2 linked regions of the Homo sapiens genome follow. The protein of the gene in region 1 interacts with the protein of each later gene in a pairwise test. Each region holds a gene or a part of one and is shown on either strand. Other genes may lie near its edges. The genes, in order: CPEB1 and SLC16A7.

Region 1 (4,543 bases):
CAACTGCCAACCCCTTTTACAATTCTCTAATAGTTTTCCTGCTGTCTGCAGAATAAAGGCCCCTTACAAACCGGGCCCAGGCTTCCCTCCGGCGGTATCAGGTCGCATCATCCTCAGTCCTGGTCAGAGGGAGCCGCTCGGTGCCGTCCTCCCTCTCTGCCTTTGCTTGATCTTCCGCCTGGAATGCCATCTCCGACTCTGCGTTTGCCTGGGGTTTCCGGTCCGCCCCTGCGCCAGGTGCCCTAGGACGCCTGCCCTGGAGCCCTCGCCCTATCCCTTGCCCTATTTCTGTGAAACTTTCTATCTCAGTGTGTCAGGAGCGCCGGAAGCGGTTTCTCCGGAGAACTCCGGTCCAAAGAGGACCAGTGATGTCTTTGGAACTTTCTGGAACTTCCTGACTCTCGCGGCCCCCTCTGCAGCGCACGGAGCAGAGGGTCTAAAGTGAGTGCGCCTCCTGGAGCCCAGGGGCTACAGTTCCGACCAAGGATGCCAGGGCAGGCTCTCGCCCTGGAGAGATCACTGGAAGAGAAGGAGCGCGGACACGAGGCTCTACTGACGAAGCGATCGCCGCCGCTCGCAGGGGCTTGTAAATCGTGCCCTCTTTCGTTAAGAGGGAAACTGAGGCCCAGGGCAGACAGTGACTCGGCAAGGGTCACTTAGGTGATGGCGCGCTCAGGCTTAGGTCTCTGGCCCCCCAGGGGGCAGCTGTGGCTAGCAGCGGCGGCAGTCCCCGCCGGGTTCCGGGTGGGCGGCGGAGCCCTCCTCGGCTCGGCCTGCTAGGAGGGGCGGGGCGCGAGGGGGCGGAGGCGAGGGCCCGGGCGGGGCCGACACAGGTGCTCCGCATCCGGCCGGGGGGCGGCTCCGAGGAGCGGCTCGTAGGAGCTTCATAAGCTGCCGGGGTGCGGGGCTGCGCGCGGCCCGCTGCAAAAATAGTGCCCACGTGCGTGCGCGTCTCTCGCCCGCCGGCTGGCCGGTCAGCCCGTCAGCCCCGCAGGGCCACACCGGCCCCATGGCGTTCCCGCTGGTAAGAGCCACCCGCCGCTCGCCTGGGCGGGGCCGCGTCCCGGCCGCAGTAGCTAACGGTCCGCGCGCAGCCGGGTCCGGCGCCGCGGTACCCCCATCCCCCGCCCCGTGCGGGCGAGTCCCGGGCGGGGCGCGGTCACGTGCCCGCGGGCGTGGGGCCTCGTGGAGGGGTGGAGGGCGAGGGGGGCAGGGAGCCTCCTCGTGACTCAGGGCCTTTGGGCTTAAAGGCGCCGCAGCCCTGCGGGGGCGGCCGGTGGGGCCTCCGAGCCGCACTGCGGCCTCCAGGCGGCCTCGAGCGTCTGTCCAGACGGGAGCTGACCGGACATAAAGGAGCACCGGCGCCCGGAACGTTTCTTTCTCACACTGCCGTCGCACGGGAGACCCGAAGCCGCTGGCGCTGGAAGCTCACGCCCCCTGCGGGTCTCTTTAGCACCCGGCGCGCGGTGGGGGCGCCCGGGCGGGACGGGGCGGGGCTGCTGACGGCGTAGACCCCGTGCTCTGTGGAGAGCCCCACGACGGCGGCGGTCGCGGCACCTTTAAGGTGGAGGGCTCAAGCCCCTCGTGCGGCTTCCCAATCCTGGGCAGGTCACGTGGCTTCACACCTTCGCTTGGCGCCGGAGAGGGAGTCTCGGGGGCGGGGCTGGCCAGGTAGTGTGGCGCGAGGGCGGAAGACTGGCGGGGCTTCGTGCCCGGGAGACCCGCCGGGCTGGCGGCATTGAGGTGGGTCCTGGTCATGGGCGGGAGAGGGTTAGGCTTGCAGGCCGCGGAGGTGGCGTAGGCGGGGAGCGACCCGAGCCCACTCTGGGCTGTGCTGTTCGGACCCTCAGCCTGGCGAGTGGGTGCATGTGGCCTGGCGTTCTGGTCATTCTCCTCAGTGCCGGACGAGGCCAGGTGCCCAGACTCAGGGGCGGCCTCAGGTTTGGCGGAGCAGCGGCTGGGGCCCTGGACGAGTCGCCCCCCGTGATGACGAGCGGTTGGGCGGGCCTGTGCCCGCCTGGAGTCACCTGAGTGTGGGGGGACTCACCCACAAAGGGGTCCTCACCTTGGGGTGTCCCACCCGGCGTCATTCCCCGAGGCTTTTTCATGTCATGGGTTCCTCAGCGGTCGAGTCGACCGAGGCTTTGCTGCCTCATTCCTAGAGGACCCAGGGAGACCAGAAGGCTCTGTGAGCGGCCCCGCGTTGACCCCGTGACCGAGAAAAGCCAGGCAGACGCCTGGGCTCTTGGGCGCTTTCGTGGGCGCGCGCTTATTTTTCGGGGGCACTTTGCTCCCTGCAGCCCTGGCCCCTTGCACCGTGCTCTCAGCTGGGGGAAGAGAGTCGGGAGCCGAATTCGCTCTTAGAAGCCGGGGTGCCTCCCGCCAGGCCCGCCTGGGAGGAGGCCGCGTCTCTCCTCCCCCGCCCCGCGCCTGCAGCCCCGGCCCTGACTGACGCCGCATTTCTCTGGCAACCGCTTCCCTTGGTCTCCCTGGCTACCGCCCAGCCTCCCCGCGCTCTCTCCTGGCACCTGAGTCAACTACTGGGCTGTGTCGTTGGTGGGGAAGAGGGGCAAGTGGGTGGGGTTCCTATTCTGGAAGGCACAGGTGCACCGCCCGCCTCTTGGCTGCCCCTCAGGTGACGGTGCGGTCCCTTGCTAGCGGGAAGAGTGTCTGCTAAGGACAGTTTGCACCCTGAGGCTCATGTTCCCTTTGAGTCTAGGGACACATGCTGGGTTAAAAAATAAAAATAAATTCAAACAGGACCCAACCTTGGAAACCTCAAGTTGGTGATTGTTTTCCTGGTTGGTTTTTTGCATAGTTAGAAAAGCTTGTGGAGCTCAATGGGGCTGCTGGCTGTCGGAAAACCCTGGGGACGGTGTTTTGGGGACTCATCACTGGTCTTTTATTTGTCCCCATTGAGCTGGCTTGGAGCTGAACTGTATTCCCAGAGCACGTTGCTGTAGGAGTTTGGCTTTTTATTTTTTAATATTTATTTATTTATTTATTTATTTTGAGAGGGAGTCTTGCCCTGTCACCCAGGCTGGAATGCAGTCTCGCGATCTTGGCTCACTGCAGCCTCCGCCTCCCGGGTTCAAGCGATTCTCCTGCCTCAGCCTCCTGTGTAGCTAGGATTACAAGCTCGTGCCACCACGCGCGGCTGATTTTTGTATTTTTAGTAGAGATGGGGTTTCAGCATGTTAGCCAGGATGGTCTCGAACTCCTGACCTCGTGATCCGCCCACCTCGGCCTCCCAAAGGGCTGGAATTACAGGCGTGAGCCCCCTTGCCTGGCTGAGTTTCGCTTTTTAAATTTTTTGTCACGGCGATTTAAACTTTGGGTGGCCTGGTAGTGCCTGCTCAGTTTATAGAAGTAGGATTTGGAAGTTGACTACTCTGTGTGTAAGTCAACCTTTGTAATAAAAAAGTACGGCCCGGCCCCATGACTCACGCCTTTAATCCCAGCACTTTGGGAGGCCCAGGCGGGCAGATCACCTGAGGTCAGAAGTTCAAGACCAGCCTGGCCAACAAGGTGAATTCCCGTCTCTCCTAAAAATACAAAAATTAGCCGGGCATGGTGGTGGGCGCCTATAATCGAAGCTACTTGGGAGGCTGAGGCAGGAGAATCGCTTAAACCCAGGAAGTGGAAGTTGCAGTGAGCCGAGATCAGCCACTGCACTCCAGCCTGAACGACAGAGCGAGACTTCGTCTCAAAAAACAAAACAAAACTTGGTTTCCCCCCTCCGAACCGTTTGTCTTGTAAACAACTCCCTGGTCTAGGCTCCCATGTGTGGGAGGGAGGTTGTGCCAGCCTGTGCAGCACATCAGAGGTTGGAGAGCTGATGCCTGTGGTGAATAATCATGGAACCGTTTGCAGTTTGGGTTAGGCCATAGGCGTTTGATACAGGAATGGTTCTATGTGCTTTTCTTTCGCTGTAGTGCACAAACCAGTGCCCATGAAGTAAAAAGTGGAGGAGGAAGATAAAGTAGTAAGACTCCAGGCTCAGCACCAAACTTAACTAGTGACCAAATGATAATAGCTGCCTTAATAAGCATTTTCACTGAGCACAACCATTAGTTTTATTCTTAGTCTTTAAAATGGGTTGCAAACTCAAACCCTATAGGGGCCAGAGGTAACATAAATGAGCAAAGGAGGAGGAAAGAAAGGTAATGGCTTCTGAACTACAGAGTATGTGCCTCTTTGAAAGGAGCAGCCACTAGCTGATTGTTGCTCAGCAAAAATGTGGGCCCAGAGTCGGTGGATCTTTGACTTGCTTCTAAACTGGCTATCTCTATTTTGATGGATCTCCTGACTTTTAAATGTAGCATTAAAAAAATTTTAAACACTATAGACCAAATGTAACATGTCTTTAATGTTGGATTCAACCTGAAGGCTAGTTTGGAATCTGTCTTAAAACATCCGTTTTGGATTTCCCCGCTGTTTTGCAGAAAAGGAAACAGGCTTTAGAAATCAAGTCACAAGGCTGTTAAGTGATGGAATTGTGTGAACCTAGGTCCTTCTGGTGCCGTAGCCCAGCCTATTATGT
Region 2 (3,810 bases), on another chromosome or scaffold:
ACTTAGGGAATAGTGGCAGTCTTCCTAGTGTCAAATTTGAGCTGAAATATGAGGCTGAAGTGTTGGTAGACATCTTCCTTGTGCCAGGGGAAGAATATCAACATAAATAAACAAAGCTGCCCTCTGGAAGAAACAGAAGAGAGAAGAGAGAGTGTAACATGCTGGACAAACAGAATTACTGGTGCTAGTTGAGCTGGAAGACATTGGTGTCTCTGCTTCTCCTCTGATTTGTATACATGAACATTTCTCTTTAGGCTTTAGGGTATCTGTATCAGGTTTCTGTCATTTACAACAAAAACACATCTGCATAAAGTGAGTAATGATATAATAACATATTTTTGAAAATTTTTAAGCCAAAAATCAGGAAAGATAGTCTTATTCTTGTCAGGTCATAAATTAATAAATAGGTTCTTTTTATACATCAGTAAGTGAAAGGTTCACTGTCTGAGGCACATATATCAGTCAGAAAAGATTTCAATAAAGGTTCTTAGAATTTCTGTTGAAAATAACATTTAGTAACTATCTGATATTATTTGTACTAGATTATCAGCCCTCTGTAGGGAAAGTGTGTCCTGGAATAATTTCAAAGGCTCTAAGCACACTTCCAATCTGTTGTTGACCTCTGTCCCCTTTCATCCCTGTTTTGGAAGAGACACACAGATTTCATCATAGAAAGCTCCAGGGCCATGATTCCATTCCTACTTTGTGTTTTGAAGTCCTTGCCTCTCACTTTTATTCCATGAAGACTGGCAATGATAATATCCACTCACAACTTCTTTTTCATTTGAGAAAAATGAACATGCTCTGAACACGCTCTGTCTTACTCAGTGACCCCACAGTAGTGATTAATAGGTTGACTGCTAAGCCCTAATGAATGTGTCAGATCTTAGGTGTTCTCTAGGCTACCAAAGGATACCTCTTCTCTAACAGAGATCTGATAGAGTAGCACTTGTACATTTCATGATATAATATAAGCTAAATTGACTAAGGCTATCTCATAGTGTGTTCTCATCCCATGTAATAATTTATATAACTTATATTGTTGTTACACAATAAACCAAGCCCTCATGTTTGTAATGATCAGTATAGTCTATATAACTGTAGAGAAAGGGAAGATGCATGCCAGATCAAACCACCTTGTCCAGGAGGTGTCCAGAGGGACAGATGTCCTTCCGCTTATATTTAATTGGTCAGAACTAGTCACTTGGCCTCAGCCTAAGGGGAGGAAAGCTGGGAAATATAGAGGAGTGCATGGATGCACGGTGAGCATAATAGTTTCTGCCACACTGTACCATATTTCATAGAAAGCTTTAGTAATATTTATGCCTACAGATGAAAAAAAGAGTCTAACATGGCATAGATATAAAAAGTCCACAGCCTACTTGCACAGGGCTGTCAAAGTGTACCTGGTACTTTTTGCTTTTTATAAATCTAAGATGAAAGCTCTACCTATCTCAAACACAGGAATGGAATGACTTTCTTTTTTTATTGCTGCTAAGATATTGCACAGCATGAATTATTTTAATAGCCTCCCTCATTCTGCAAAATATTAGGGCACAATGTAGAATAATATATTGAGCTTATTTAAAATTTTAAGAGAATAGAAAAATACATATTGTACATTATGACCACCAACCTGCTATGTTAAAGCCTTTTGCTTCTCGGCCTCCAGTAAAATAAGCTCAGTGTTCTAATGTTCAATCCCCATGTAAAGTAGTTCATCACAAAACTATCACCCTTACTTTAGCACAATTGGCCGTCACTATTCACATAAAACAGAAAAATAAGTTACCATGGAGACAAAGCCAATTCTTCTCTCCAGAATGGCTGATTCTTCCAAGTCAGAATAGATTTTTACCAGAAAAGTCATATAAAGTACTCACAGAAACTGGCAGTCCAAATCTGTCGCCAGTAACTGTAGAGGTAACCATATATAGATTATCATTCAATAGAATACAAAAACAAATATTGCACTAAAAGATAATCCTATGTAATCACTATTTACAAAATAAAACCCTATGTCCTTCTAAACAGTGTAGAAAGTTTAAATTATGTTTTCTACCTCTACTTAGTGCTTTATTAATGGGGTGACCACACTGTTTGACCTATTTGCTAAAATTTGCTAGATCTCCAGGAGAACATATGGACATCCAGATGGATTGCTGTAATGTGATGCCATTATTCTAAGGATGAAGTAAGGTATAAACATAATTTGCATTCTTTTCCATCCTTCCTGCGAACCTTTCATTAGTTTCATTTTTAATTCAGACATCAGAAGGGAAGATAATACCTTGCTACCAAAGCCCAGATACCAACTAATTACTACAAGAGACTCCAGTCCTGACATCACAGGCCAGGCCTCTGAACATGCTCCATCTTACTCAGTGACCCCACAGTAGTGATTAATAGGTTGACTGCTAAGCCCTAATGAATGTGTCAGATCTTAGGTGTTCTCTAGGCTAATGCAATTAGCATTGTGTTGAACAGAATATTTCAGCTACTTGCTAGAGAGACTCATTATACTTCACAGTAAACTATGTCTTTTCACCTTTGCTCTCCAAATTTTTTTTATAATCATCAACCTAAAAGGCTCCTATAAATATATTTCACATAGTGTAAGAAAATTTAAGTATTTTAAAATCAAATAGTGATTTTCTTCTACAACAGTGAACCCCTGTGTTGTATATAAAGTGAAGTTGTTTTCAGAGATGCTTGTTAAAATGCAAGTTTCTGAACTCTAACAACAGAAATCCTGATAAAAGGGGATTTGGGATAAGGCCTAGGACTTCATTTTTAACAAGACTCATGACTCAGAAGCTAAGCATTCTGTAGACCACAGTTGAAGAAAGACTGCAATGTGAGTAACAGGACTAATACCTGTGTCTTAGATTAACTGACTATATCAGACTTTTTGTTCTAAATAGTTACTATGTTTCTGAAAAAAAATTATCTGCATCCACATTAAGAAAATTATTTCCACATTAGATTATAATTTTAAATGTGCCAATTATTTTTGGTTAAAAGATTAGAAACTAATTATCAGGATAAGACATAGATGTTATTTCCAACAAACTATGTAAACGTGTAAGATCTATATTCAACAGTGGACATGGCAGGTAAAAGCATTTTCATCCACTAGACAATGGGCCTAGAATTGTGTTTCCAGTTTTAAAAGAAGGACCAAAGGTGAGCAGAATTTCTGCAATTCCTGACTTTTCTCTATGGCCAGAGATGAAACATTTGCATGTTTTAGCCCCGATAATGGAGGACTTTAGGCAATATTCCAGGTACTTACTTGGATCTCACCTAGATATTGCCTTCATCAATTACTAAATACCAAGAATTTGTATGTATCTAGCACTGCTTTCACAAAACAAGCATATATAAAATCCCTGTTAATATTTAACTTAGACATATTTTATTCATCTATCACCCTAAAAATTTTAAGGCAGCTTTTTCCAAATTTATAACTATTTTAACAAACTACCATTTTCTTCATGAATTTCAGAAGAGTTCTTTTGTGCTTTTAAAAAATTATACCATATATATTAAAATAGAAAAATAAGTATGAATAAAATAAAAACATTTATTTGTAGTAAATATAGTATATTTACTTTTTATAATTTCATATTGAGATTTAGTGGTTTGAGAAAGTTAATTATGCCATTGTTCATTCTAATGTTCCTTTTAGATCCAGCCAGAGGGTGGAGGGCTGTCATAGGCAAGTCTATAAACACATGCTTCTTTTGTTCAATGGAGAATATTGAGATACCAGGCTCTGACTAGGACTGGCTAGATGTTATGTAGTTC

The links.
Region 2: the proteins of CPEB1 (region 1) and SLC16A7 interact in a two-hybrid assay, tested with the Homo sapiens proteins (one large-scale study listed by BioGRID and IntAct).

The regions. Positions count from the first base shown.
Region 1 is NC_000015.10:82,644,337-82,648,879, reverse strand, and holds the start of CPEB1 (cytoplasmic polyadenylation element-binding protein 1), read left to right. Parts: upstream 1-1,516; 5' UTR 1,517-1,743; intron 1,744-4,543.
Region 2 is NC_000012.12:59,707,262-59,711,071, reverse strand, and holds part of SLC16A7 (monocarboxylate transporter 2), read right to left. Parts: intron 1-3,810. UniProt on the Homo sapiens protein: Proton-coupled monocarboxylate symporter. Catalyzes the rapid transport across the plasma membrane of monocarboxylates such as L-lactate, pyruvate and ketone bodies, acetoacetate, beta-hydroxybutyrate and acetate.